Linked DNA regions of Homo sapiens: regions 1 and 3 are each linked to region 2. The links come from fine-mapping of genetic effects on gene expression. A gene starts in region 2. Each other region holds a variant in brackets. All regions are shown on one strand. Distances are between the middles of the regions.

Region 1 (8,184 bases), 290 kb after region 2:
AAAATTCTAACAGTAGTTGTCTCTGGATGTTATATTATGGGTGATTATTTCAGTCTTTTTTGTATAACTGAAATTGCTGTTGTACCTGTAATGAAATTGTATTGCTTTTATAATGAAAAGAGAAAAGTTATTTTAATAAAAGAAGGGCTTTCATGCATAATGCTATTTCATACATAAATGCTATCACGTAAATTTTCATCTCCACTCATCTAGCAAATTTTGTAAAATTTGTAAATCTAGTAAATTTTGTCTCCATTCCTCTTACTGCTTCAGGGATGATACGTTTTCAGACACTCTGAGCCAAAAAGCCGACAGTGAGGCCAGCAGTGGGCCAGTCACGGAAGACAAGTCCTCATCCAAGGACATGAACTCCCCGACAGACCGTCATCCTGACGGCTATTTAGCCAGGTAAGTAGAGCCTGGGAATCAGGCCCCTAAGCCTCCGCTCCTCCTGGGGCCATGAGGAGCCACTGCACCTCAGCCTTGCAGTACTGCCCGGTGTGATAAGCTCTTCTGTTTTCTCCCTGTTTCTGTGAATGTCTAGGCAACGAAAAAGAGGAGAGCCACCCCCTCCAGTAAGGCGTCCTGGCAGGACCAGTGATGGCCATTGCCCGCTCCACCCTCCACATGCCCTTTCTAACTCCTCAGTTGACCTAGGGTCCCCAAGCCTTGCCAGTCACCCCCGGGGCCTGCTGCAGAACCGTGGCCTCAACAATGACAGTCCTGAGCGGAGGCGCAGGCCTGGCCATGGCAGCCTGACCAACATCAGCCGGCACGACTCCCTCAAGAAGATCGACAGCCCTCCCATTAGAAGGTCCACGTCATCAGGGCAATACACGGGCTTCAATGACCACAAGCCACTGGACCCAGAGACAATTGCTCAGGTACGATGCTTTTAATTACATATTGCATTTTAAGTACCTAAGTGTGATGTAGGAGGTGTGAAAGATTTACTTTATTTACTTTTTACTTTATTTACTTTATATTTCTGTATAGAACCAACTAAAGAAAACAGAAACAAAACCAGCTCATTCTTTAACTTAGGCCCTGAGTCTTTTTTGAACAATTTGTTACTGAAAGGGCCCAAAGGTTCATAGTGATTTAAACAGAAACATGACAAAAACGTAGGACCAGGACACTCAAACCTATCATTGTGAATAGCCAGAAAAACTTTGAAAAAGAAGAATGGGAAAGCAGTGGCCCTGCCAGATCCTAAATGCATTCTAAAGCTAGTAAAACAGACAGATGGATGAAACAGAATGGAGAGCCCAGAAACAGAAAAACCTTAAAACAGTAGTCCCTCCTTATCTGCAGGGCATATGTTTCAAGACCCCCAGTGGATGCCTGAAGCCACAGATAGTGCAAACCCCTACTGTATATGATAAAGATGGCACTTTCAACTTAGAAAAGATGAGACCTAATAAATAATGTGATCAATAATAGATAGATATTTGAAGAACAAGTCTGGATCCTATGTACCTCCTGAACACATTCAGGTCTTTGCTTCCCAACAGTGACTGCAGAGGGGCTGTGTAGTTTTCTTCTAATGACTAAAATTGACCAAGTAAAAGGGAAACAATACTAATAAATTTGCCCATCATTCTACCATTTTTCCCTCTGGTTCTGGCTCTTTTCACAGCACAGGCCATGAGAACATATGTTCGTAGGCCTAGTGGGTGGCTTACACCTGTAATCCCAACACTTTAGGAGGCTGAGGCAAGAAGATAGCTTGAGGTTAGGAGTTTGAGACAAGCCTGGTCAATATAGCAAAATCCCGTGTCTAAAAAAAAAAATTTTTTTTTAATTACCTAGGTATATTAGGATTCTCTAGAGGGACAGAATTAATGGAATATATATACATATAAAGGGGAGTTTATTAAGTATTAACTCACACAATCACAGAGTCCCACAATAGGCCATCTGCAGGCTGAGGAGCAAGGAGAGCCAGTCCAAGTTCCAAAACTGAAGAACTTGGAGTCTGATGTTCAAGGGCAGGAAGCATACAGCACGGGAGGAAGACGTAGGCTGGGAGGCTAGGCCAGTCTAACCTTTTCATGTTTTTCTGCCTGCTTTATGTTCACTGGCAGTTAATTAGATGGTGCCCATCCAGATTAAGGGTGGGTCTGCCTTCCCCAGCCCACTGACTCAAATGTTAATTTCCTCTGGCAACCCCCTCACAGACACACCCAGGAGTAACACTTTGCATCCTTCAATCCAATCAAGTTGACACTCAGTATTAACCATCACAAGTCTACCCCTTGTCAACTTGAACCCATAAACATCTCCTGAGATCGTACATAATCTTCAAATAAAAACAATAATGTCATAATTACGCCTAACATGATACAACTGTCCTTTCCTATAACCGGAAACACACCAATCCCCAACCCAAATGCTATTACATAAAGTTAACAATACTTAAATGCTGATAGGAAGTCAATATAATCTTATGTCACATGCTAAAGGAAAAAGGAAATAAAATGAAGATATTTTCCTAGTACAAGTGTATACATGCACAAACATGTTTTTAACGAAAGAAGGAAATACTCATGACAATTACAGTCCCTGTTTCCACGTGGTCATAGCTGGTATTGATGACTACCTTCTACTACCCATTCCGTATTCCCTTTGCCTTCAGCAAGCACCTCAGCAGGTCGTGGTTGTTGTTGTTGTTGTTGTTGTTGTTGTTGTTTTCCTGGCGGAGTGACCCAAACCTTCATTCCTGAAGGGTCTGGGCCATTTGTAGTCCTGCCTGGATTGGGCTATTGTAGTTTCCCATTGACCTTAATCACAGAGCGTGGTAATACTAAGAAACGCCCTAATGGATCTCCTGTATTCCATGCACACTCTTTTTTACCTGCATCGTGGAGTAGTCGACTGATTTCATCTTGATAGTCTGAGTCAGTCACCTTAGCCAACACTGTAACTCCCTTCTTAGTCTGTTGCCTTAAAGGTAGGAGGAGCCCAAAGTGTCCAGGTGGCAATCTTAACTCAATGGCATTGTTGCTGTGTCTCCTGGTGGCACATTCCTCCCTCTGGAACTGAGACCTCTAGGCCAGCAGAACATAATGTCGCGGGAACAGGAAGTAAAAATGTTGCTAGGGGGTCACTAGGGATAATGATGAATGGTGCCACTTCCACTTCCACCTCTTGATTCCTGGACCCGTGAATCCTGGCTATGGGAGAAACTGCACCATGTATTGGACACAGATTCAGAGCATACACAGCCTTCTGGGGAACTTTGCCCCAGCCCTGCAAAGTATTGTCACCTAGTTGGTGTTGCAATTGTGACATCACAAGACCAATCCACCATTCTGTCAATCCAGCTGCTTCAGGATGATAGGGAGCATGGTAAGACCCATGAATTCCATGAGCATGAGCCCACTGCCACTCTTCTTTAGCCATAAAGTAAGTGCCTTGGTCAGAGGTAATGCTGTGTGGAATACCATCATGGTGGATAAGGCATTCCATGAGTCACAGATGGTAGTCTTGGCAGAAGCATTGTGTGCAGGATAGGCAAACCCATATCCGGAGTAACTGTCTATTCCAGTGAGGACAAACCTCTGCCCTTTTCATGATGGAAGAGGTCCAGTGTAATCAACCTGCCACCAGGTAGCTGGCTGATCACCCTGAGGAATGGTGCCATATCGAGGGCTGTGTTGGCTTCTGCTGCTGGCAAATTGAGCACTAAGCAGTGGCCATAGCCAGGTCAGCCTTGGTGAGTGGAAGTCCATGTTGCTGAGCCCATGAGTAACCTCCATCCCTGCCACTATGGCCACTTTGTTCATGGGCCCATTGAGCAAGAACAGGGGTGGCTGGGGAAAGAGGCTGAATGGTGTCCACAGAATGGCTCATCCTATCCACTTGATTATCAAAATCCTCCTCTGCTGAGGTCACCCGTTGGTGAG[T/C]ACTCACATGGTATACAAATATCTTCACAGTTTTTGACCACTCAGAGAGGTCCATCCACATACCTCTTCCACAAATTTGTCACCAATTTTGCAATCATACTTCTTCTAAGTCCCTGACCATCCAGCCAAACCATTGGCTACAGTCCACGAATCAGTGTATAATCACACATCTGGCCATTCCTCCTTCCATGCAAAGTGCACAGCCAGGTGCACTGCTCGAAGTTCTGCCCACTGGGAAAGATTCCCTTCACCACTGTCCTTCAGGGATGTCCTAGAAAGGGGCTGTAGTGCTGCAGCTGTCCACTTTCGGGTGGTGCCTGCATATCATGCAGAACCGTCTGTGAACCAGGCCCTAGTCTTCTCTTCCTCTGTCAAGTGATCATAGGGAACTCCCCATGAGGCCATCAGTGCAGCCTGGGCATTTGAGCCACTTCCTCATGTAACTTATGCCTTCAGGAGTTGCATGAGCTCGATCACATATATACCACTTCCATTTGATGATGGAATGCTGCTGTGCACGACCCGCTTTATGGCTAGATGTGTCAGAAAGCACCCAGTTCATAATAGGCAGTTCAGGTTGCATGGTGACTTGATGACCCATGGTCAAACGTTCAGTTTCCACCAAAGCCCAGTAACAGGCCAAGAGCTGTCTCTCAAAAGGAGAGTAGTTGGCCAGGCGCAGTGGCTCATGCCTGTAATCCCAGCACTTTGGGAAGCCAAGGCGGGTAGATCACGAGGTCAGGAGTTCAAGACCAGCCTGACCAATATGGTGAAACCCGATCTCTACTAAAAATGCAAAAATTAGCCAAGTGTGGTGGCACACGCCTGTAGTCCCAACTACTCGGGAGGTTGAGGCAGAAGAATCATTTGAACCAGAGAGGTGACGTTGCAGTGAGCCAAGATCACGCCACTGCACTCCAGCCTGGGTGACAGACAGAGACTCCATCTCAAAAAGAAAAGGAGAGCAGTTATCTGCAGAAGAAGGCAGGGCCTTGCTCCAAAATCCTAGAGGCCTCCGCTGTGATTCACCTATGGGGGCCTGCCAAAGGCTCTAAACAGCATCCCTATCTGCCACTGACACCTCAAGCACCATTGGATCTGATGGGTCATATGGCCCAAGTGGCAGAGCAGCTTGCACAGCAGCCTGGACCTGTTGCAGAGCCTTCTCCTGTTCTGGACCCCACTCAAAACTGGCAGCCTTTTGAGTCACTCGATAAATGGGCCAGAGTAACACACCCAAAAGAGGAACGTGTTGCCTCCAAAATCCAAATAGGCCCACTAGGCGTTGTGCCTCTTTCTTGTTTGCAGGAGGGGCCAAACGCAGCAACTTATCCTTCATCTTAGAAGGAATATCTTGATAGGCCCCACACCACTGGACCTCTAAAAATTTTACTGAGGTAGAAGGTCCCTGAATTTTAGTCAGATTTATTTCCCATCCTCTAGCACACAAATGTCTCACCAATAAGTCCAGTGTGTTTGCTACTTCTTGCTCACTGGATCCAGTCAGCATAATGTCATCAATGTAATGGACCAGTGTAATATCTTGCGGAAGCAAAAAGCAATCAAGGTCTCTCCGAGTAAGATTATGACACAAAGCCAGAGAGTTGCTATACCCCTGAGGTAGGACAGTAAAGGTATATTGCTGGCCTTGCCAGCTGAAAGCAAATTACTTCTGGTGGGCCTTATGGACAAGAATGGAGAAAAAGGCATTTTCCAAGTCAGTGGCTCCAATCCACATACCAGGAGATGTGTTAATTTGCTCAAGCAATGAAACCACATCTGGTACAGCAGCTGCACTTGGAGTCACCACTTGGTTAAGCTTACAATAATCCACTGTCATTCTCCAGAATCCATCTGTCTTCTGCACAGGCCAAATGGGAGAGTTGAATGAGGATGTGGTGGGAATCACCACCCCTGCATCTTTCAAGTCCTTGATGGTGGCATTAATCTCTACAGTCCCTCCAGGGATGCAATATTGTTTTTAATTTACTATTTTTCTAGGTAAAGCCTGCTCTAATGGCTTCCATTTGGCCTTTCCCACCATAATAGCCCCCACCCTACCAGTCCAGAGCCAATGTGGGGGTTCTGCCAGCTGCTAAGTATGTCTGTGCCAATTATGCATTCTGGCACTGGGGAAATGACCACAGGAGAAGTCTGGGGACCCATTAGACTCACTGTAAGTCAGACCTGAGCTAAAACTCCATTAATTACCTGACCTCCACAAGCCACTACTTTAACTGGAGCACCACAACGACATTTTGGGTCCCCTGGAATCAGTGTCAGCTCAGAGCCAGTGTCCATTAGTCCCCAAAATGTCTGATCATTTCCCTTTCCCCATTACACAGTTACCCTGGTAAAAGGCTGGAGGTCCCCTTGGGGAAGGATGGGATAAAGATTCACTGCATAAATTGTCAGTAATATAGCGGGGTCCTTCCTCAAAGGGACCTGGCCTCCTCTTCATTCAAGGGGTTCTGGGTCTGTAAACTGGGTCAAGTCTGGAAATTGATTGAGGGGCCATGATTCTCTGTTTTCATAATTCAAATTAGTCTTTTGTCCATCCAACCTAGAAGTTTTCTGCTTGTGTAAATTAAGTAGGAATGCAGTAGGCTTCCTATCAATTTCACTTTTAGGAACAACGTGATTAATTAGCCAATGCCAGAGTTCTACACGAGTCAGACTATTCTGCTTGCTGCTTTGCCTCTGCTGTGCATTACTGTAGCTATGCCCACCTTGCCTTTGATGATTGAGTGTCGCCTTGCCTTTGATGATTGAGTGTTGCCACTTGGCTCCTGCTACCTTGGGATCCAATTATCTCCATTGTATTTAAATTTTGTAGTTGAGTGACTGTGGTTCCCACCGTTAGATCTGACATACAGAGAACAGCAATTACAGGGCTCTTCAAAGATGCAAGTGCTGGCCAAGTGCGGTGGCTCATGCCTATAATCTCAGCACTTTGGGAGGCCAAGGCAGGCAGATCACGGGGTCAGGAGATTGAGACCATCCTGGCTAACATGGTGAAACCCCGTCTCTACTAAAAATCTAAAAAATTAGCTGGGAGTGGTGGTGGGTGCCTGTAGTCCCAGCTACTTGGGAGGCTGAGGCAGGAGAATGGCGTGAACCCGGGAGGCAGAGCTTGCAGTGAGCCAAGATTGCGCCACTGCACTCTAGCCTGAGCGACACAGCAAGACTCCATCTCAAAAAAAAAAAAAAAGATGCAAGTGCTGCTCTCACAAATCTGTTTTGCAAGGCATTGGTCAAGGACTCTCCCAGCTGGGATGAGTAAGTCTAAAGTGACTAATCCACTCCACCATCCCAATCTCCCTAAGCCTTTGGATCCCTTCCTCTACATTAAACCAAGGGAGAGCAGGCATTTTCAGCTCACTCACAGTGCTCACAGTGGGCCATCTTTCAATCCATATTTCAGTTAACCAAGCAAATAAACTATTAGAACCTTTTTTAACTCCCCGAGCTGCAACATTAAATGCAGAGCTCCTACTTAATGGGCCCAAATCAATAAATTCAGCCTGATCTGACTCTATGTTCCATCTACCATTATCCCACACCATTAATATCCATTCCCATGCCTGTTATCCAGATTTCTATTTATATAAATTAGAAAACTCAAGCAGTTCTTTTCTAGTGTGGCACACCTCTTCATGGGTCACACTCTCAACCTCACCTCCAGGGGCCTGCCGGGATATTAGTCTAGTTACAGGTCTAGAAGCAAACAGAAGTGTTGGAGGTGGCTCCTGAGGAGAGTCAACATTATCTTGCCTGGCAGCTGCCTCATGGGAGGCCATCACCATTGCCTCAGGCAGCACAGGGTTTATCTCCTCAGACAAAGGTGGAAAGGCTGATGGCAGCATGGGTCAGGGAGGGGATGTTGCCGCTACTGGGGATAGGGAAGCTGTTTCTTCTGGCAAAAAAGGTTCATCAGGGTTTACAAACTCAGTGCCCCCAGCTTCATCAGGGTCCTCCCACACATCCCCATTCCAAGTTGCAGGGTCCCATTCTTTTCTAATCAATGCCCTCACTTTAACAGTAGACACCTGGTGAGGCTGTGCATGTATCTTTCATTGCAGGTCAGCGACTTGCATAAGAACTCGTGTCTGGTTCTCCATAATTTTAGTTCTTTATCTGTGGGAGATAAGACTCACACTCAGGGCAGTCTTAGCAGATTTGAGGTTCAGTATCTGCTTCTGAAGCCAGGAGATAGAATCCTTGAGTTCATCATTTTTTTTCATCACTTTGTCCACTGAACTTAGGAACAACCAAC
Region 2 (8,184 bases):
TGTGCCTGTAGTCCCAGCTACTCGGGAGGCTGAGGCAGGAGAATCACTTGAACCCAGGAGGTGGAGGCTGCAGTGAGCTGAGATCATGCCACTGCACTCCAACCTGGGCAAGTGAGACTCTGTGTCAAAAAAAAAAAAAAAGTTAAAAGAAAATAATGGAAACACTAATTGACTTGTTAATTACACTAAACAGTTGGATCAGAAAAGAGATCCACCAATAGAAACCCATGACTCCGTCACACACATTTTACTTATTTGAACTCACTTCACAAGTTTAAAGGAATCATAAGTTCATAGGAAGTGGAATGGAAAATTGGAAAGAGTACCCACTTTGGAGACAGGCAGATGTGAACTGGAATTCTGACCCTGCCAGGCCAGACATTTACTGAATTTTCTGAGCCTCCAGATTCTCATCTGTAAAATGAGGACAATGGTGTCCGCCATGTAGGGTTCTTCTGAGAATGTGTGCAAAATTCTTACCTTAGTGGGTATATCCCATCTTCAACAACAATAAAATGGTGGCCTACTAATGGTGGCATTAATATTCAATACATTTTATTGACTGTGTATTGAACACCATAATAAAATTAAAGATGAAACATTATCTCTGATCTTTATTTATTCTTTGTAGAAATGAGGCTGGTCTTGTACTCCTGGGCTCAAGCAATCCTCCCACCTCAGCCTCCCAAAGTGTTTAGATTACAGGCATGAGCCACCACGCCCAGCCTATCTCTGATTTTTAGATAGCTTTCTATTAGGAAGAGTAAAACTAAGATAATAATTGTAAAGATAACTAATACTCACTGGGTGTATACCATGGCCTACAAGTACTTTTAAGGGTTTATCTCAGTAAGTGCTTATAACATCCCCAGGACTTAGGCATTAACCAATTTTACAGATAAGGAAAATTTGTAACCCATTTTACAAACTAAGGCCTAGAGAGAATAGTAATTTTTACCAGATCCCTTAGGAAACAGCAGATTTAGGATTCACCTCTGGGCACCCTGTCTCTGGGGCTTGTTTGCAACACACTGATTTAGGTCTAGACTCAGGCAACAATTCATTTCTAGGTGCTGCAATCTCTGCTGTCAACTTGTGCTTCCCAGGTGCAAATATGAAACAAATCCCAACAGCATCATGGATATGAATCCCATTTAGATGTGACTATGATTATCACCTAAGTAGGCTGCCTGCCTGGTCTCTCTTTCTCTATGGCTAACCCATCCTTCTACACTGCCAACAGTTATCTTTATAAAACACAAATCTGATCGTGATACTTCTCTACTTAAAAGGCTCCCTGCTGTCTGCAGAACTGTGTCCAAGATCTTAGCATGGCACAGGAGGACTCTCCCAGCTGGCCCTGACCTTCCTTCCAGCCTCTGCTTTCTCTTCACCGTACACTCTTACATAAGACAGCTCCACGTGAAATTAGGGCAGCCAGGGGTGCCATAGTATAACTGCCTGTGTGGTAAAATGAAAAAAAGACTGAAAAAAAAACTTAAAAAAAATTGGCATATTTTCTTTACATATATTCTGTTGCTATAAAGTAAAAAAAACTTGCTAAAATTAGATTTTAAAAAAGCAGTGCAATTAACAATGTCCACATACCCACATACTATCAGCTGACACATGCATATACATATATTACAATTTTTTACATTATTTTTCACCATCTAGCAGAGATCTGGTATCTTAGTGGAAGATATCTTGTCACTCTATTTGCAATTCCTCTAGAGTATAACACTCTTCCTTTTCCCTGGAATGCATCCCTTTTCCTCCCTAAAGTTGCCAGCTACTTACTATTCATCCTTTAAATCCAGCTCAAAACCACTCCTCTGCGAACTCTTACACCCAATCCTCTTATGCAGTCTGTTTTTCCATCCCCAGTGCTCCCAAGACTGGGAGTATTTCTATCTCTTACAGCATTATTGTACTGCTTGTAATTATTTATTTATACAGTAATAGACTGCATGATCCTTTCCGGCAGTCTTAATCTTTGAATCCCTAGTTCCTAGCGTGGTGTTTGGCACAGAGTTAAGAACTGGAGAGCCGATCACTGGATACATGAAAGAATGATCAAAGTCTAAAAGTCCCTACTTTCTTTAGATCTTGTGGGGAAAACACTTGAGGGGATACACCTTTGGACACATCATTTTGATAAATCAGGCCCATAATATTTGAGAATTGATTTGAAAGGAGTCAGTAAATATCTCAAGTGGTGTGAGTCAAAAAGGCTAACAGAACCAGGTGTGGTGGCTGATGCTTGTAATCCCAGTGCTTTGGGAGGCTGAGGTCGGAGGATTTTCTTTTTTTTTTTTTTTTTTTTTTTTGAGAAGGAGTCTCCCTCTGTCGCCCAGGCTGGAGTGCAGTGGTGCAATCTTGGCTCACTGCAACCTCCACCTCCTGGGTTCAAGCGATTCTCCTGCCTCCGCCTCCTGAGTAGCTGGGATTATAGGCACATGCCACCATGCCCGGCTAAGTTTTATATTTTTAGTAGAGATGGGGTTTCACCATGTTGGCCAGGCTGGTCTCGGACTCTTGACCTTGTGATCTGCCCACCTCGGCCTCCCAAAGTGCTGGGATTACTGGTGTAAACCACCGTGCCCAGCCAGAATCTTTTGAGGCCAGGAGTTTGAGACCAGCCTGGGCCATAGAGCAAGGCTTCATCTCTACAAAAAAGTAAAAATAATAAAAAAAAATTTAAAAGGCTGGCAAGGATGGATTTAAAGTACTTAACACAACACCTGAACCATGCAAAGATGGCAAGGTAAATTCTTCGTTATATTGTTCAAAAAGAGACTAGAGTTTGAGACCAGCCTGGACAACATAGGGAGACCCCCGTCTGTACTAAAATGAAAACAAACAAACAAATAAAATAAAAAGAGACTAGACACGATAGATCTTGTAAAAGGTATCTATTAAAAACGTGGCCGGGCGCCGTGGCTCACACCTGTAATCCTACCACTTTGGGAGGCCGAGGTGAGCGGATCACTTGAGGTCAGGAGTTCAAGACCAGCCTGACCAACATGGCAAAACCCTGTTTCTACTAAAGATACAAAAATTACCCAGGCACGGTGGCGGGCGCCTGTAGTCACACCTACTCTGGAGGCTGAGCCAGGAGAATCACTTGAACCCGGGAGGCGGAGGTTGCAGTGAGCGGAGCTCGTGCCCCTGCACTCCAGCCTGGGCGAGAGTGAGACCCCGTCTCAAAAAAAACCCCCAAAAAACAAAATCAAAAAACAAAAACAAAAACAACCGTAAAAGTACTAAGTGCAATGTAGTGTCCTGTGTTGGATCTTGGAACAGAAAAAATGACACTAGTCGAAAAAATTGGTAAAATTGGAATAAAATCTGGAGTTTAGTAAATAAATAAGCTAACAACGCCGTTAAGTGTGACGTGTTTCCATACCATCGCTTTCCTACCATCCTAGCTTCCCTATCTACTGTAGGAATAGAGGATATGGTGTTCAAGGTGGGTGTTTTTCTCCGCCTCGATTGAAGAGCTTCGCGCTCTTTGGATTAACAGCCAGGTCATTCACAATTCAGTGTTCAGTTTTTCTATTGGGGTCCAGCGTCTCGGAGTAACATCCCTTTGTGTCATGGATACATCCAACTCTGGACTTCCCCATTAGATTCTGGCAAAAGCCCCACCAGAGCCCCCGCCAGAGCCAGAAGGCGGTCCCTCAGGTCAGGAAGGGGTTTTCCTGCCGCCGGAGCCGCGACCTCGGCTAGCGGTGGAGCGGGGCTTCGGCGGAGGGAGGTGCGGGGCCTCGGCGGAGGGAGGTGCCGGGGGCGCCGCCCACGGCCTCCTGGGCTCGGCGCGCGGGGCCGGGCTGCGGTTGGCCACAAGAGGCATCCATCTTCCCGGACCAGCCAGGCGTTTCCTAGCGGAGCAGGGGCGGGAGCTTGGACGGAGAAGGGCACAGGCCGGAGCGCGGTCCGCTCCCGCGAGCCTGGCCCCGCCTGGCGGAGCCCCGAGGAGCCACCGCCCGCAGATCGCTAGCCGGGCGCCCGCGAGGCGCGAGCCGTGTGCGCACCCTCAACTTTGCTGCCGCCGGGGGCGCGGCTCCCGCGTGCGTGTGCGAGTGTGCCTGTCACTAGCGGCCTCCTGGGGGCAGCAGCGGAAAGGGGGACGCAGAGAAAGGCAGCCTCGGCGCACCGCGGCCAGGGAGGCAGAGGCCCCTCGCGGCGCCGGCTCTGGAGACCTAAACTCCGCCGGGGCTGTGCCCAGGGCGCGTCTGAGCGTCGCCGCCTTCACCCTCTCAGCAGCAGCGGGGACTCGCGTCAGGACTGCGATTCCTTTCGCCTGCCGAGCTGTAGCGGCAGTGTCTGCGGGCAGAGGAGCGGCGGCCGTGGCAGCAGCATCCCCAGCCCGGGCGGGACCCTTGAGCGCCGGAGCCGACAGCTGGAGGCAGGAAGGGAGGGTTGTGGCGCCCGAGCTGGGCGCGTTCCCAGCGCCTGCCCTCCGCCGCTGGCCCTGTCCCGGGCGCCCGGTGCGGGTCTCGAACAATGGTGCGGAGCGCCGGCGCGAGCCCCGCGCCCGCCCAGCGGCCGTAGAGGAAGTGGCCGGGCTCCCGGCGAGGTGGGCAGGGAGACGTCCCCCGCCACTCGCTGGCTGGAGTTTGCCTGCGCGTCCGGCCTCTCCCCCGGGGATCCCCTGGGATTACCGACGGAGCTCAATTTCGAGAGTATGGTGCCAGCGCCCGGGCTAATCTAGTCCTCTCTACTCGCTCTTTTTCCCCTCCTCCTCCTACTTCTCCTCTCCCTCCTCCCTTCCCTCGGGTCGGCGCTGCCTCTGGATTGCCTGCGTGTGGGAGTACAACTCTGCCTCTCCAAGGAGAACGGGTTGTGACCACTGAACAAAACTTGCCCATTGAAAGCAAACCCGGAACAGCTGGATAATGTCCACCCCGAGCCGATTCAAGAAGGACAAAGAGATCATAGCCGAGTATGAAAGTCAAGTCAAAGGTAAGGATGGGAGCGGCTGCCTTGCTCCTTTTGTGTGCCTTCTTGTCATTGTGCTCGTGGAGTTGCGTATCTAACTTGGTGTCTGCGTGGGAGGAAGGTGGTGAGGGGACAGCTCGAGCCCTGTCTGAGCCACCTGGGCTTCCTACAAGCCAGTTAGTTCCCAGTTGCAATCCCAGTCCCGTCAAACCCACGGGGAGCTGGAAACTGGGTGACTTCCCCCGCCAGCTGCCAGCCCGCATCTCTAATGGGGAGAGAACTGGCTTTAACTTAACCACCTTCAGCTGGGCAACTTATGTGGGAAGCAGGCAGCAGTGGAGGATCCTGTCCAGCTATTATTATCACCATCATTATTCTTTTTAAATGGTAGGATTGTCACTACGTAATTTTTTTACGGAATGATTTTTGTAAAGTCTGTGAACCCCAAGCGGTCTACAGCCTCATTGAGTGCAGGCTATTTCAGATATTTACACCACTCACCTATTTACACCGCTCACAATTTATTAGGGCGAGACCCCTTTTATTAAATAGCTCCCTAAAAGCCTGGCAGTTAAACGAAGCAGTGACTAGTGGAATCTGACTCTTCCTTTATAATGGGCCAGAATTCATTGCCATCTTTCACACTCACATGGGAATATTGCTTTATCATTTTCTGGAAGCCACTTGCATGTAAAATGAAGGTTTGAATATTTGAGTAGTAGTTTCAGTCCATTTACATTGTCAACTAATGAAGGAAACCTAATTAAGGCTGATTATTTTTACTTTCTATGCCTTGTGATTAAAAATATATATATTTTCTCTCCAATACAAGTATTTTGTTTTGTTACTGAAGTGTTTCGTAAACATATGTGTTACTTGAATTTTTTCCTCCTCTTTCCTGAGGTCTCAGGAGTAGCTTTCCTGATTGAGACAATGGATGGAATGTTGGGACCGCCACTGTTCTTTGACACATTCAATGCAAAGTTCATAAAGATTGCTATGTATACACCTGTGTTTATCTATGCACAGTCTTATGAAAGGGCTACGGAGAGAGGCATTACTGTACTTCCCTTGAGCAAGGGAGGAGCAGCCTGAGTGTTCTTTTGTGTGGTCAAGTTGTAAAAATGCCTGGAGTCCTGTGAGAGGACCTGGTGGAGAAATCCTGTATCATCCAGTGTGAATACAGACCAACTCATTGTGGACACTGCAGACACAATATGCAAGATAACTTAGGTTATCTTTAGGAGGACCCCTATAATGGAGTTATCTATAGGCTGACCCCTATAATGTGTTCAGGAGACACAGATTTTTGTCTGCTTGGAATTGTGATAATTTATACTTACAGGAACTTGTTTCATTGCTATGGAAGTTGTGTTAGCAGATAAGTAATTATTTTCTTAGAGCCAGGTAAACTTTCTAATGAGACTAACCTTTCTTTTTTCAGTGAGTCCAACATAGCCTAAAACCTTTCATTCCAGGGCAGTACTCTTGTTCACAACCACCATTTCTCTGTGCAGTTTTTCCACATGGCTCTTTGTGGCAGGTCTTCAAGGGGTGGCGGTCTGGTTTTTCTGCCGCCTAGAGCACTAATTGGCAAATGCACTTCCAAATGTTGATTTCTTTATGTTTGCTGTAAGGTCACTTGCCAGTGATCAAGTCCTTATTTGAAAATCAGCGAAATGGGATGTGTTGCAATGTGTCTATCAAATTCAAACGGAAGAAAAATCATGAACATGGTGAAAATCACATTTGGAGCTAAGTCTGTCCCACAGAGAATGACCTTCTCCCTATTTCCTTCAACACTTCTTCCTTCCACACACCCACGAGTCCCTAGGCTGCTTTAGGAGTCTTCACTGCACCTGCCCTGCCCTGAGTCCAGGCTTTACCTCCTCCTGCAGTACCTACACATCCAGTATCTAACCTAGATCACTACATCCATACACAAACATGGGAATAAGGGAATATCATGGAGTCAGATCATATACGCATTAAATGGCACAAATTCACCTGGTACTTCTAGGCAAATCAAGAAGAGAGTGGGAGACAAATAACAGATAAATAGTACATGAGGCCAGCTGTCCAATGCAGGGAGAGTAGGCCCCTTAGTAAGGACAGCATGGGAGACAAGACTGGTTTTTCTGTACCCTCGCAGAGTGCTAGTCTGTTATTTACAGGTATGTGTTTTGGGATCAGGTGCAGTGGTGCATGCCTGTAATCTCCGCATTTCAGGAGGCTGAGGCAGGCGGATCACTTGGGGTTAGGGGTTCAAGACCAGCCTGGCCAACATTTTGGTAGAGAAACCACATCTTTACCAAAAAATACAAAAATTAGCTAGGTGTGGTGGCACACACCTGTGGTCCCAGTGTGCCTGTGGTTCCACTTGAACCCAGGAGGCAGAGGTTACAGTGAGCCGAAATCACATCACTGCACTCCAGTCTGGGTGACAGAGTGAGACTCTGTCTAATAAATAAATAAATAAATAAAGGTATATGTATTTGGAACAAACTACTTTTTAAATTACAGTCAGCAACTTTATCTGATGATAAAAAAAAATTCTGTTCTATTGCTAAAGGAAAACCTGACTGTGTGGGACTCATTAAGACATAAGTCTAGGCCAGGCACGGTGGCTCACGCCTGTAATCCCAGCACTTTGGGAGACCGAGGTGGGCGGATCACTTGAGGCCGAGACCAGCCTGGCCAACATGGTGAAACCCTGTCCCTACTAAAAATACAAAAATTAGCCGGACATGGTGGTGCATGCCTGTAGTCCCAGCTACCCTGGAGGCTGAGTCAGGAGAATTGCTTGAACCCGGGAGGCAGAAGTTGCAGTGAGCTGAAATTGCGCCACTGCACTCCAGCCTGGCTGACAGAGTGAGACTCTGTCTCAAGAAAAACACAATGAATAAACATACATATTGGACTCTATAGGTGACTTAGGTGTGTGGGTGATTTCAAGAGTCATTTTGATTATATGTATTTTTTTTTCTACCTTCTAACTTAGAACCTAACACTCTAGAATATTTTCCCCTGTTACTCTCTCCCATTTTCCCTAATAACAACTTTATTTATCTCAGAATTTTTGAGATAATGTTTTGACCTAAAGGAATGACTTCAGATATGGAATTTTTTTATTCTTTAATTTTTATTTTATATATATATATATATAAAAGGAGTATCGGTCTGCTGCCCAGGCCAGAGTGCAGTGGCGTGGTCTCGGCTCAGTGCAACCTCCACCTCCTG
Region 3 (8,184 bases), 250 kb after region 2:
CAAACTCAGTGTTTTAAAATACCGGATAGGAGATACAAAAGAGTACCACATACACTCTGCTGATTCCTTTCAGTTTACTTACTTTAAATTTTTTTCCTGCAGGTCATAGAGCTGAATATATGACTACAAGGTAGGAAAATATTTTATCATAACTTATAGCGTATTTTACTTTCTCTTTAACAAGAAGCAACCATTTCAATGCTGAAAGAATTAACATTTTGTTAATGAATACGGGAGATAGTTTTGGCTTGACAAAGCATAGCAACATGAAATGTTTGGGCTTCTTACAAGACTAGGTATGTTCTAGCTTATTTTTGTTTCCCTCTGGAATTGTAAAGCTCTTTAATAGGCAGAGACAGTAACAAAAACCTAAGTTAAACCGGCTTGGTTTATCTAATCCAGAATACTTTAACTGTTTCTAAATAGCGTGACAGGACTTTTGATTTGATAGTTTAATTAAAAAAAAAATACGACGTGTACATCTACTGCATAAGTAAGTAGAAAGTACAATTATTTTCTGTTCCTATTTTCCTTTAGTCATATAAACATTAGAGCTGGCCGGGTGCAGTGGCTCAGCCTGTAATCCCAGCACTTTGGGAGACTGAGGCGGGTGGATCACCTGAGGTCAGGAGCTCACGACCAGCCTGGCCAATGTGGTGAAACCCTGTCTCTACTAAAAATACCAAAAAATTAGCCGGGCGTGGTGGTGTGCGCCTGTAATCCCAGCTACTCAGGAGGCTGGGGCAGGAAAATCACTTGAACCCGGCAGGCGGAGGTTGCAGTGAGCCAAGATTGCGCCACCACACTCCAGCCTGGGCAAGAGCGAGACTCCATCTCAAAAAATAAAAATAAAAAATAAAAATAAAAATTTGAGCTATATTGAATATCTTTAGGATTTTAGCTGTCTATATATTCTCCATTTTGATTCACTTTAAACATTTAACTTTTAACACATACTCCCATATTGTACTTTCTTCATTCAGGGGAGGATTGTGAAGCTACTACAAGAAAGGAAAGCCATTTGGGCAGCAGATTCTGATTTGGGTTCGGGAAAGTTTGTGGCAACTTTTATTTTTCTATGTCACCATTTGTGCAACAGACAGAAATTATCTAATTAGCATAGCAAGATGTTGCATTTTTGAAATTGAGTTCTCTTTGAAATAAGACGCATTTAGAACACTGGTATATCTGCTGCAGTAATTGGCAAGTTGACTTTCAAGGATCTATAATGTTATTGCTGGGCAGCTTATTCATAAGGAAGCCCCTCGTACTTCATGGTAAACCAACTAGAAAGATACAGCTCCTGACTTTTCCAAACCTAACAAAAGAAAAAAACACTGAGGTTTTTCTTCACTGTGTCAGTGAAAAAGAAGACTATTACCTCGACCTGGTAATATGCAGCTTATAGAGATGTTTTTCACCTATAGCATCTCCTTGCACTATCAATTATTTTACCTGTTGTTTCTCAATTATAATTACTGTAAGGCACTTCAAAAAAAGAGATTTTTTTAAAAAGCAGAAATGGAAATATATTAATTTGCCATGAGAGCTATAATTGCCAAATAGACTAGATATTCACATCAACCTGACCAGTACTTCCTCTCATGTGGGCATCCTCTGTAGGAAACCAAATTATCAGGAAGTCATGTGGTAGCCACAGAATCAGAATGAGTCACGCAATTGGAATGTTGAACGTCCCTGGCTCTGTTCACTTGATGTGGGTGTAGCAGAGCAAGAATCATCAGACCTCTGCCATGGAAATTACTTTGATAAGCACTGAGGCAATTCGTTTTCATTCCAGGTTCCTCTCACAACTTGCATGCGTTCATATTTACCGTACTATAGAATCCTACAGAGGTGATTTTCAGGCCTTTCATAGAAGACTCAAAAGATATCCCTCCATTAGCCAGCATTACCCTGCGTCTCCCAGTCATGCGGGGACAATGATTCAGTGCATTGGAGGTTTTTGGCTCCGTCTACAAGATTGGCTTGCTCCGTGAATCAGTGACCAAACAAAATTCTAATCTGCTTAGCTTTGTCAGCTTCTCCAGATATCACCAGATGTGAAGCTCTCTTGGACCTTATTGTAATAACCACATTTTCTAGTTTTTTAATGCTTTGGTATATTGGGGACTTTCTGACCCCAGAAGTACTGCCCCTCCCGGGATTAGCCAATTCCTAGCAGTAGTAGTAAGAACTGGCTTGCCAAGTGTGCCTTTTGTATGCAAGCCAGGTGATCCAGACGACCTACCTCCAACCACCTCCTTCATGGTTCTGACACTCACGGCCACTATTCCCCTTCCCTAATCACCCCAAGGCCAGGTATAGGACAACTTAGGGATAGTCCCTATGCCCCAAAGCCCACTGGAATCATTCCAACTAGCCTATTCTAAACCTGCTTGCCCAGCTTCTCCCATTCCCTCCAGTGGGAACCACAATAAAGACTCCTGCCCACATTTTCCTTTGTGCCTTCTGCCTCCTGACCCACCCCGGTGCTTCCTTCTGTGGCCTCCCTGGTGGTGGGGCACATCCCCAACTCTTTAACAAACTATCTTTTCAGTGGTAGTTGTCTCCTGAACGTTGGCCTCCCCGTACCTGAATAAAAATGAAATCCACACTTTAAAACACTTTTAAAATAGTGAAAGGAGTGGATGAAATCAAGTATGTAGGGTTAAATGCTTTGGTGGTTGGTTGTTTTGTTCTTTTTACTCCTATCAGATTATTTCCTCCATGAATGGCCAGAACTCAGTGTATAAAAGAGATCTCAGAAATTTCATCCGTGGCAGGAGATGACATGTTGCCTGGTAGAAGTTTCCATATTCTCTCCTAGACACTTGCAAAGGCTTCTTTTAACCTCGCCAGCACTGTAGAACTTCAGGTGCTGCTTGCTGTGCACCTTGTTCATCATATGAGCCCATCTGCTGGGAGGGTCTTAGAATTTAGCTGTGGAAGGCTGTACCAGTAGGTTTGTTTCCATACATGATAGTGTCTAAGGAAGCTAGTCAGGCTTCCACGTAACTTCTTGGGATCTGGTATATGAACCAGACTTTCTGAACTTAAGCTAAATGAACTAAAAAAGATAAATTTTCCTAGAGTCTGAAGCTTAATGAAGGGCTTTACACAATTTCCTGGTGTGGTGTGTATCCTCCTATAAGTCTTGCAGTTAAAAAGGAGTTTTACATTAAAACATCCAGAGACAGGTCTCAGGGCTCTCCTTCCATGTATTTCATTCAGCACAGTAGTAGAAGTTGAGTCAGGTAATTCTGGCCTTCTTTCCACTAAAGGGAGAGAGCAGAAGAGGTTCCCTCTCTGCAGTCACAGGGCAAGATGTCACAGTTTCTAAATATACTACATGCTGCACTAGATGTGCATATGTCAGAGAGAATGGTTTATTCACCAGAGCAAATGGGCAGACTGGAGAGGAAGAGAGTCTGCAGTGGCATAAACAAGTACATCCTCAGATATTTAGGTGGTGGAATAGTTTGTTCTAAAGAAATAATAACTCATGCGAGCCTGTATGTCCCCCAAATTAGAAAAAGCAGTGAACCCAAATTATTTTTCTCACTTGTGACCTATTAATAGTTACTTTTGCATGAAATAAAATTCCATTACTGCTGGAGGGGTATCGAACAGATGTGATGTTACTTGCATTGGTTTGCTGGGCTGAGTGAGGTGGCTCACGCCTATAATTCCAGCACTTTGGGAGGCCAAGGTGGAAGGATCTTTTGAGCCCAGGAGTTCAAGACCAGCCTGGAAAACACAGGGGGACTCCGTCTCTATAAAAAATTTAAAAATTAGCTGGGCATGATGGCATGCGCCTGTAGTCCTAGCTACTTGGGCTGAGGTGGGAGGATCCCTTGAGCCCAGAAGAAGGTGGAGGCTGCAGTGAGCCATGATCATTCCACTACACTCCAGCCTGGGTAACAGAGCAAGACTCTGACTTAAAAAAAAAAATTATGTGTACCTAAAAATGTTATATTTAATTCCTCATTTGGGGATCTACCGGAGCCCTAATCTTTATGACCGGTTGTATCTTACTGTGTGACTTGTAAACCAAATAACAAGAATGCTGGTTTGTAACATTTGGCCAAATAGCTAACGAGTCTACTTGGTAGTGCTTATTTTAAAACAAACCAGCAAACAAACAAATGTCAGCTGCAGCATACAGGGAAACAGCAGTGTGAATAAACAATTTGTATGTTTTTTGATACAGAAGTGAAAGTAAATAAATGGGAAATGGGAGGGAATGTTTTCCCCTGTGATTGGGGGAGGGGAAGGAACCCAAGATTCCCGTGTTTTGTAATATTGATGTGACCTATAGATGTTTCATTTATTGTTTGATTTCTGCCATGCTCAGTAATTATATTCCCTTCCCTTAGGCCTCCAAATGTTCCCCCTAAGCCCCAGAAACACAGGAAGTCCAGGCCCCGCTCACAGTATAATACTAAGTTGTTTAATGGGGATTTGGAAACATTCGTCAAGGTACTGGCACCAGCCATCTGGGTGGCTGATCTCCATGCTTCTTACTATAATGGTCTCAGCCTCTTGTAAGAGGAGGAAGGTCATTATGTCCAAGTCTGTCCTGGGGCTCTTTGCTTTCCCAGAAAATCAATATAATATTTCCTGAAGTCAGAGAGGAAAGAATATTTGGGTCGAGTGCCTTCAGAAGAGAGAATAAATGTG[A/G]GTATTATTATGTGGGCATAAAAGAAAGCCCTCTTTCTTTATTTTTTTAAAAAGAGCCATAATTTGTACAGAAAGTTAAAAAGCAACCTGATAAAAATGTTGTATTTTTACTCATGCAAATGAGATGGCACAAAATATTCTTTAAAGTCTGCTTGTTAGGATAGCTCTGAAACACAGCAGGAGTTTTGATTTCCCATGACTTGAGGAATTCATTATATTGAATGAATTGTAAGACTATGATCTATACCTTGTACCTCTGCTGTGTTTACTCTTCGTCTTCTTTTTCATCCTGTATTTCTGATAATGCTTCTAGCCGAGGACGAAGAAACTCGCACACAAGACATCAGGTATAGTGCTAGAGGGACGTGAGGGTGCTCTTTCACTGTTGGTATCATTTTCAAGTCGTGCTCATGCTTGGCTTTAATTAGATTGTTAAGGTTTTTAAAAGAAAAATGTTTGCATTTGGAAATCAGACAAGTTTATAAATAGGTTTTACTTAGAAACTGTAGCAATCAAACACTAGAGGAAAAATGGGCACATTAAACTATTAGTTTTTACATTATGTGTTTGGCAAATGTATCAAGTTTGATCAAGGGCTTTATTAGGGAAAGTCAATGTTAAATACCAAATACACATTTAATACTGGATTATGGACCCTAGTGTGAATTTTACAAAAAAGAAAAGGGCTTGCTTTCTCCTTTGTAGTTCACATTTTATGGCATGGGCTGCGGTGTTTCTGCAAACTAAGTTTATCTGAGAAACCATGTCATTAATAACCTCCCTTAATGATATATTACAGACGTCTTACTTTCTTAGGTCTGTTTATTGAATATGTGTACTAATAATTAAATAAATGTGCATGTGGCATGTATAAGGACATACATACATATATACATACATACATACATACATACATACATACATATGTACATAGATTAAAAACCTCTGGCAGCCTTAAAAATCAGCCCTACTCTGGAATTAAGTGGAAAGCCACTGAAGAACCTAAATAGCAGTTACAGATCTACTGCCTTAAGCCTTAAATCCAGAAGAACCTTATTGGCTCTAATTTAATATAAAATTATTGTCAAATTTGATTACCTATTTTCCCAGCCCCTGGCTTATAAGCAGGGACAAATTATATGGAGAGAGAGGAACGATAAAATGAAAGCAATGAGATATGCAGCTGATGGCCTGGCAGAGAAAGAGAATATAGAAAAGCTGCAAGAAGCAGACGTAGGATTCTGTTGTATTTGATAATACAGTACGAGAATGGCTGCTTAAGATGATAGAAAAGCACATATTACATATTTTTTCAATTTTTCATTAAGAGCAGTTAAATGAAAGTAAATTGAGGTACCAAAGAATAAATAAACCAGCTATCATGGAAAATTCACTTATAGGAGCTCTTCACAGCCCAGATGGCACATTGAAGAATCTTTGGTAATAGAAACAATACAGAGGGCTCCTTTCCACTTCTAAAAAGGGCTTGATCACTTGCAATCTCCACAATGTCACTGTGAAGACAGCAAGAGCAAAACCATTTTTTCTCTTTTTTCTCTTGGGAAAACCGACACCAAGGGATTAGTTTGAATGATAGATGGAATGCACCCCCATTGTTCTTATAAAATATTTTCTTATGTTTTCTACCCATGCATCTGAAATCTGTAAAATTAAATTAAATTAAATCACATATACTCATTACTTTTTGACTACAAAATTAATTATATCTGAATGAAATACTGATCATAGCTTTTTTAAAAAGCAATTAGTAAATGTAAACACAAAAACATTTTTTAAAAATATGAAAACCGAAGACATTTTTTATTGAGAACTTTCTTAGTGCAAACATTTTCCTTTTCATAACCTTGTATTCTTTGCTTTTCTTTTTAATACTAAATTCAGCAGAGATGTAAACTAATGATCTCTTTTTATCACTTACATTTAAAAATATGTTGCTTTCAGATTAGTGTTCCATGAATTGTTCGTATAGTTTACTTCCCCTAAAACACTTATATCTTAAAGAAAAATCCTTTCACATATTCAGTAAGTTATGATGTAATTACATTGCTGTTCCTGAGCCAACTAGTCCACACTAAAATGCGTTTTTATTCTTAAGACTCTTCTTTAAGAAATTAATAAAATTTGTGCTCCTAAAACAAATTAACTAATTAGAAAAACTTAATACAGTCTCCAGAAGTAATTGAGCCATTAACTGGTTTATACACTGATTAGATTGTGTTAAAACCTAAAATAAGACAATTCCTTAAGAAGTATAATACCCATTCCAGGAATAGTAAAGCGTTTAAATTGCTGAACTGCATTATTCTTAATCCTTCCCCCACTGCTTAATTGGAAAGGTTAATGGATTCTGAATTGTTCTAATATATTAAGACAACCAACTTTTTCTTGCATTTCAAAATAAAATTCCTCACGAATTAATACCTGATGTCAGCTAACCATTTTCGAGCCCTGTGGTTTTGTTTTTTTGGCTTTCTTTTTAAAAAAGATCTAATTCCTGAAAAAGCAGAGTCTTAAAAACACATGAAAAATAATTCTGTAGTCAGTAACCTTCTTTAACTTCATGGAGTACATGGCATTGGTACATATTTAACTGTGGCCTCAGCAGCCCTTCATCTCATTTGTCATCCTATACATGTTTTAAAACACTGCCACGGTTTACATTTGTTCAGTAGAAGGCAGTGACTGTTTTACAAGATGTGGGGAAAGAAGGCCCAAAAATGTTCCTTTCTAAAAAAACAAATCTGCGATATACAGTTGTGCCATTTTTTTCTTATTCCTTAAAATATGACAATGTATGAATGAAAAATCTGTAAGTTCTGATGCAAACTAAGTAAATACATGTTTTAATTATCTCTGTAACAATTCTCATATTATGCATCTATAGATATATAGATATGGAAGCCCTTTTATGACTTGTCATCTAGGTGATGCACTCTCAGGGATGTCAGAGAGAGAATCCTGAGATGGCTGAAAGGTTGTCTTTCATGATGAATATAGCGAATCAAACTGAAGATGCTATGATTATAATACACAGAGTTCTTTTTAAGTCCATTAAAGATTGGTCACTTGTATAAATAAGCTTTTAAAAATGAGTTATTCACATATTCATTTTGGTATGTAAGTCTTAATATAAGAAAAGAGATGAATTAGGTTTTGACATCTCTAGGCACAGCAAAGTAAGTTGAAACAGAATTGCCTTAAATGTATTTAACTTGGTTTGCTCCAGAACTGCAAAAATCCCTCTTTAATTACTGTTAAACTCTAAGCCTTATTATTATGAGGCATTTATACCTCTCCCTTGAGGTTAACTGGTTTCCATCCCTTTACCCAGGACTCAGGACAGGTTATTCCCCTCATTGTGGAAAGCTGTATTCGGTTCATCAATCTCTATGGTAAGCCATAAACTACAGAATTCTTATTTTTTAAAAAATCACTTGAAGTGTTTCAGTAAATTTACTTCCTGGGAAAAGAGGGACCTAG

Evidence for each region.
Region 1: its variant is fine-mapped to the expression of SRGAP1 in testis (GTEx, PIP 0.97).
Region 3: its variant is fine-mapped to the expression of SRGAP1 in subcutaneous fat (GTEx, PIP above 0.99). The same link has a PIP of 0.9 or more in aorta, atrial appendage, breast, esophagus muscle, fibroblasts and lung.

The regions. Positions count from the first base shown.
Region 1 is chr12:64,127,317-64,135,500 of GRCh38, forward strand. It overlaps SRGAP1 (SLIT-ROBO Rho GTPase activating protein 1), which reads left to right. Exons shown (of 22, transcript NM_020762.4): 20 at 274-408; 21 at 545-884. It overlaps LOC105369798 (a long non-coding RNA gene), which reads right to left and starts at 3,416. Exons shown (of 2, transcript XR_945018.2): 1 at 2,858-3,416. The variant T/C (reference allele first, on the strand shown) is at 3,909.
Region 2 is chr12:63,839,916-63,848,099 of GRCh38, forward strand. SRGAP1 (SLIT-ROBO Rho GTPase activating protein 1) reads left to right here and starts at 4,785. Exons shown (of 22, transcript NM_020762.4): 1 at 4,785-4,968. The coding sequence starts at 4,902. RefSeq lists silencers at 3,718-4,137, 4,198-4,257, 4,368-4,627 and enhancers at 3,790-4,291, 4,292-4,791.
Region 3 is chr12:64,086,897-64,095,080 of GRCh38, forward strand. It overlaps SRGAP1 (SLIT-ROBO Rho GTPase activating protein 1), which reads left to right. Exons shown (of 22, transcript NM_020762.4): 11 at 103-130; 12 at 4,380-4,482; 13 at 8,036-8,096. Among named protein-coding and RNA genes, the nearest start is that of KICS2, 130 kb to the right of the region's middle. The variant A/G (reference allele first, on the strand shown) is at 4,684.